Linked DNA regions of Homo sapiens: region 2 is reported to be linked to region 1. The links are microRNA targets in miRTarBase. Many come from high-throughput screens and were not tested one by one. Region 1 holds a microRNA gene; the other region holds the end of a gene's coding sequence.

What was found. Region 1 holds the annotated microRNA hsa-miR-128-2-5p (GGGGGCCGAUACACUGUACGAGA, at 1,911-1,933, shown strand). A microRNA usually pairs through its seed, bases 2 to 8, with sites in the 3' UTR of a target mRNA and lowers its output. Matches are read on the target gene's strand: a 7mer-m8 pairs with bases 2 to 8, a 7mer-A1 pairs with bases 2 to 7 and ends in A, and an 8mer does both.
Region 2: miRTarBase lists WFIKKN2 as a target of hsa-miR-128-2-5p. Seed matches in the 3' UTR shown: 7mer-A1 at 503-509.

Annotation. Positions count from the first base shown.
Region 1 is chr3:35,742,580-35,745,771 of GRCh38, forward strand. It overlaps MIR128-2 (microRNA 128-2), which reads left to right and starts at 1,897; the gene lies at 1,897-1,980. ARPP21 (cAMP regulated phosphoprotein 21) reads left to right here. Exons shown (of 21, transcript NM_001385562.1): 19 at 1,260-1,386.
Region 2 is chr17:50,840,807-50,843,806 of GRCh38, forward strand. It overlaps WFIKKN2 (WAP, follistatin/kazal, immunoglobulin, kunitz and netrin domain containing 2), which reads left to right. Exons shown (of 2, transcript NM_175575.6): 2 at 1-1,547. The coding sequence ends at 213. Among named protein-coding and RNA genes, the nearest start is that of WFIKKN2, 6.7 kb to the left of the region's middle.

The DNA.
Region 1 (3,192 bases):
GATTCCATGAAATTGCAGAGCTACAGGTTCACACAGATTAAGTTATATTTTGTTCCCACTTTATCCTCAGGCAGCAAAATATGTTACATATGTTTCAACAGCAATATTGAAATAGAAAAGTGTTTCCTATTAGACCTGAGCAAATCAGAAAACAAAATAACCATGAAAATCACAGTTCTCAAATAATTGACTTGTAATTTTATCCTATGTATATAATGTTTGTAGGCGGTCTACTAGGGTACTTCAGTTGTTATTTTAGAGAATATGATAGGCGAAAACTCAGAAGCCCAGAGATAGAAAATAATTAACTAAGATCAGTAAGAAAGTGACCTTAATATAAATGAACTGAGGCAGGCAAAGAAGTCTATCAGATCAGGAAACATTTGATTTGGATCATAATCAAATAATCAGAATAATTTTATTCATTCTCAGTCATAAGAAAGTTAAGAAGGTAGCATAAACAACATTTTTATCATATTTTCCCTTTTAGATTGAACATACTTTTTTGAATAGTGGTGTGTACCAATCATTCTGCAATGTGCTTTGATAGACTACCATATTTCATGATTGCATTCTCTGCTCCTTTTAGGCTACAGATCAGCAGTTTTCATGTTTCACCCCTGTTTCCATTAGAAAAGCAATTCAAGTTAGATATAATATTTAAAATGTAGGTTTTCGTTGTTGATGATAACTGTTTCACTCTCTCTTGTTTCATCTAAAAAACACAAAAGTCTTGTTTTAAAACAACCATTGTATGATCACGACTAGGTCAGCAATTGAGCAGGATTTATCACAGATGGCTCATCTCTGCTCCATATGGCTGGGGTGGCTTGACTAGGGCTACACTTACATGCCTGGAACTGGAGGGTAACCAGTCAATTGGGGGTACCTGTGTTCCCCACATGGCCTTTTTCTGCAGCAGAATAGTCTAGACTTCTTTATCTCTTGGCTGGGTTCCCCGCCTACAGACGTGGAAGCTGCAAGTCTTCTTTAGGATCAGACTTGAAAGACTCAGACATCATTTCTGCCTCATGGCGTTGGTAAAAGAAAGTCACAGAACCAGCTCAGATTTAAGTTTGGGAAATGGATTTTGCCTCTTTACGGGAGAAGTAGCATGCACATACACATAGGCATGGGAGAAGTTTGCGGTGGCCATCTTCACAACCTACCACAATTATAAGACGAAAGCATATTTTAAGTTTAAAAATTTACATTATCTACATTTTCATTCTCTGCTTTCTTCCTCCTTTCTTCCACAGATGCCTGTATATTATTACCCATCTGGTCAGTACCCTACCTCAACCACGCAACAGTACCGGCCCATGGCCCCGGTTCAGTACAACGCTCAGAGGAGTCAACAGATGCCACAGGCAGCACAGCAAGCAGGTACTTGGAATCTGTTTCCCATTTGCTTCTCAACCCAGTTATTTTTGCTGGTGAATCTTGTACTCTTTGGATGAGTGTCCAAGCTTGGCAATTTAAACCAGCACATTTTCTCTACCCAGAGAAGATAACAAAGCATTTGATTGACTCTGTGTGGAAAAGTAGTAGGTACAAGAAGGTGAAGCATATGTCAGACTAGCATCCCTGGCATGCATGTTAAACAGTCTCCATAAATTATTTTTTGATCCTTCTTCTGTTAAAGCAGAAAGTCAACCATGTCCGTACCTTTCTAGTTCATACCTTCTTTTAATTTTTTTTTTCTTTTCAATTTGAAGAGAGTGCTTCCTCTGTTCTTAAGGCTAGGGAACCAAATTAGGTTGTTTCAATATCGTGCTAAAAGATACTGCCTTTAGAAGAAGGCTATTGACAATCCAGCGTGTCTCGGTGGAACTCTGACTCCATGGTTCACTTTCATGATGGCCACATGCCTCCTGCCCAGAGCCCGGCAGCCACTGTGCAGTGGGAAGGGGGGCCGATACACTGTACGAGAGTGAGTAGCAGGTCTCACAGTGAACCGGTCTCTTTCCCTACTGTGTCACACTCCTAATGGAATGCCGTTATCCAAAGAGCAGCACGAACCCGACAGGGCTGAGTGGCTTGTGCTAGGGAGAGGTTTGTGTCATTCCTGCTGACCAAACTGCAGGAAAAACTGCTAATTGTCATGCTGAAGACTGCCTGACGGGGAGACTCTGCCTTCTGTAAGTAGGTCATGTAAAGAGCACGTGCTCCTTGCTGCTACTCATAGATGCCTGCTCCGTGATCTGATTTCTGCACTGAATCTATGTTATGCATATGGAATGTATACAGATACATGTATGTAATATATACACAATATGTACCATTTTTATAACCTATGAGAAAAGTGCAGTTCTTGCCAAGGATTAGCACCAATCACAGACATCCTAAGAATACCAATGCTGACACTGCTAGCATCCTGTCAGATTGGAGAAAGAATTAAATTCCCCCGTATTGTGGATGGTTACATGTTCTTTGGTTTATCTCATGGCCTATTTAAAGTCTGTGGGAGAAGAATTAGAGAAACCTATATCTTCCAGCCAGATTTTGTCTTGTTTCAGCACTGTATTAGTTTGGGGAAGAATATATTTGACCTCTGAATTGACTTTAGACTTTTACAGTGTTTTGAGAACACTAAAGGGTTTCAAATAACTATTTATTTTTAAAAAATCACTTGGCAATATTTTCTCTAATTTGTGGAAAACGTTATTACCTTTATCATTTTGGTGGTAACGGTGCTATCAGTTTAGATACATGCTGTAGAAATGTGTTGCTTGCATTCTGGACTATCTTATTTTATGCTAACGTTAATTAAAGGGTTAATTTACAATCTTGAGGATCTTGGTTTAGAGGCTATGTGCAAGTTTTCTACTTGGTTACTAATGCCTTTAGAAGAAAAAAGATGCAGATATCTAATTATAATGATTTTTATTAGGTTTGGTGCCATTGTGTGGCAATTTTTAAAGAGATTATTTCAGTCTTGTGGTAGAGTGTCATCATACAAAGAAACGCAGTTACAAAACATGCTGCAATCCACTAAACCCATAAACTCTAGATCTATGTGAGGGGATGAGAAAGTTAGATGAATATGATAACTGGGCAACAGAATTAGATTTCAAAAAAGTTTAGGCCTCCCCCACTGACTTCTCCATTGCTTTTTCTCCTCTTCACTAACTTTGTTAGTGGATGTCAAAACAAGAGACAATATATGAGGCATTTTTTACTCTTTAATAA
Region 2 (3,000 bases), not on the chromosome of region 1:
ACTCTGCTTCACGTGGACTGGGCATGCCCCTGCCCCAACGTGACCGTGAGCGAGATGCCGCTCATCATCATGGGGGAGGTGGACGGCGGCATGGCCATGCTGCGCCCCGATAGCTTTGTGGGCGCATCGAGTGCCCGCCGGGTCAGGAAGCTTCGTGAGGTCATGCACAAGAAGACCTGTGACGTCCTCAAGGAGTTTCTTGGCTTGCACTGAAGCCCCCCACCCCTCCCTGCCCCCTCCCTGGCCTTCTTCCACCTATCCACCCCAATGCCTCTCAGCAAACTGGGCGAGGTCAGATTAGACAGGCTTGGGACAGCAGGGAAACATCAACCGACGTGTCACAGAAAAAGCCACAGAAGGTCTCAGATCAGCATCTATTCTTTGGGTTCAATAAGGGGTTCATATCTTTTTTAGCTGAGGGGGACAAGAGGAGAAGTCAGTGGACACATGGAAGTTACTCGTGACCACCAGCTTGCTCAGATATTCTCCTCCTCCCCTCACTGGCCCCACACCCCTGGCTCTCCCAGTCACCCTCCCCTAGCCAGTCTCCCAGCAAGGGTTTAAGAGATGGCCGCTGTGTGCTGGTCACAGGAAGTGTTGAATGGATTGGCTTGCAAAGGGGGTAGGTGGGGAGAGATAGGAGGGCCCAGGGACTCATGGGACACCTTTCCCACAGCCTCCTCGATTGCTGTGAGCAGAGGCCACTCGGAGTTAGGGGCATGGGCAATAGCAAGCTGGCGGCAGAGTCCAGCCCAGCATATGACTTGCCCTGAATGGAAGCTGCTGAAACGGGTGCCTTTGGGTGGTGGTCGGCTTGCCTCTGAGGCCACCACGGCACCAGCAGAATACGTATTTCTTCTCCTTGGCTGCACTGGTTTGTCGATCTAGTTCAGTTCAACTCAGTGGATGTTCTCTGAATGCTTACTGGGTGCCAGGACCACAGAGAGATGTTAGTCACTGCCCAGTTCTTAGAGCCCCAACACAGATACCCTCATCCCAGGGCCCCCAGACACACCCCTCCGCTGGACTCACAACTGTCTGGAGTTTCTGTCTGATGGATGGTGTGCTTTCATATGCCACTGGCTTCCTTGGACATAGATCAGACAAAAGCCCCGGGATCTGTTTGGTAGCAGGAGAAATGAAGGAAGATGAAAAAGCAGGCAGGGAAGGGGGTAGTAAAGGACTGAGAGAGGAGGGAGGTGGCTGGAGAAGGAAAAGGAACATTGCTCGATGCTCCCATCTGGTGGCGGCCTCAGGAACCCACGGGAACCTGGAAGGAGGCTCTTTGTGAGACCTGGGCAAAGGATGGGGCAGCTCGTCGATGATTTTTTTGTGTTTCCAGGCTTCCTGTGTGATCCTGGCCCTCCGGCCGCTAGAGAGAGGATTGGGAAACCCCACTGTCAGCTCTGCATCTGCCCCCACTACCCTCCTCTGCCCTATTCTGTCCCTGCCCCTCCAAGCTGAAGAAGGTCCTTGTGGGGCGTCCTCATTTCTTCCTCAAATATAAGGAGGAAGATACCAATTAAAAGCTCATAGTATCAACTGCCCTTCTTGTGTGATTCGTTTGGGTTATGATGGGGGAGGGAGGGAGGTGGGTAGTGTCATTTGCTTTGGTGACCTTACAAGAGGGAAGTCTGGCCACTGGGAGCATCTTTGGGGGATGGAGAGATGCTGGTAATATGTGGGCCCCTTTTGCAGCTCCAAGGCCCCTTAACTGATGCTCAGCTCAGCTCCGTGAGTTAAGCTGAGGTCAGAGAGGTGAGGTGACTTGCCAAGAACACAAAGGCAGGAAGGGGTGGGTGGCCCAGCCCAGGTGTTCTGATCTGTAACCTGCTCTCACCCCAGCGTGACAGCACAGTTGGTCAGGTGCAGTGTCCAGACCCTTCCACCAATGGTGTCAAGTTCAGAGGCAAGAAGGTGGAGGAGATGGGAACGGAGCAGGCAAGGACAGCTGCCAGCTGTGACTCACTAGGGGGCCTCTAGGTGAGGCCTGGTCCCAGGAAGACTGTGTCAAAGCCCTAGGTAAGGTCAGGGTGTGGGGCTTGGTTCCCAGAATGGGGACAGCAGTGCCTTTGGCCCCAGGAAGGCCCACAGCAGCTCCCGAGGCATGGAGACGTGTTCAGCCATGGCACACCCCACAGCCTGTTTGTCCCCAAGAGACACCACTTCCCTGCACAGTTGCCTGTGTTTTCCCGGGCCCCAACCCAAAAGAAGAATCCAGGCCCAGCCTAGCCTGGCCCAGCCCATCTCATCTGCAATAAGGGCGTGAGGAGGAGGTCGGGAGCAGGAAGAACAGAGGCAGAGGATCCAGGGTTTCTCAAGTTGACATCGGGAGAACACTGAGCACAAAACTTAGCCACCAAAGTGGTGTGAGCAGCAGCCACGGGTCCCCACCCTGCTCAGGTCAGGTAACCAAGGAGGGTGAGGATGGTCTCACCCTGTCCTCAGAGGCCCAGGGACATTCTGTGCACCTGCTTCCAGCTCGAGCTCTAGCACATTACCATGCAAGCTGTGGGGGCAATTGTCCACATGCCAGCACCTGTCACCTCCCTTTTCAACCCCATTTGCACAGATACGGGACCTGAACGTGCGGCTGGGCCGGGACAGCAGGGCCCCCAGTCGCACGTCTGCTTCCCTGATGAAGGTGTGAGGTTCAGGAAAATCCCACTGTGGGGCTCCCTCTCACCAGACCACTGCCCACATACAGCCCCAGACCTGGGATCCCTGTCACACTCCAGCCCCACCTGGCAGAGCGAGAAAACTCAGCCCGTGAAGTCAGACTTGCCTAGGTCTGAATCTGGGCTCTGCTGCTTACCTGCAATCTCTCTGAGTCTCTGTTTCCTCATCTGTAAAACAGAGGGTAGTAAGATCACTCTACAAGAGGCTTGGGAGCTGGGCCCTATTAACCGGGTACAACTGGAAAGCCCAGGAAGGAGGACCTGGCGCCGAGTGGCTGCCCCCTGCCCCCTCCCACCCTCGGCAGCTCTCAGCTCAGAACAG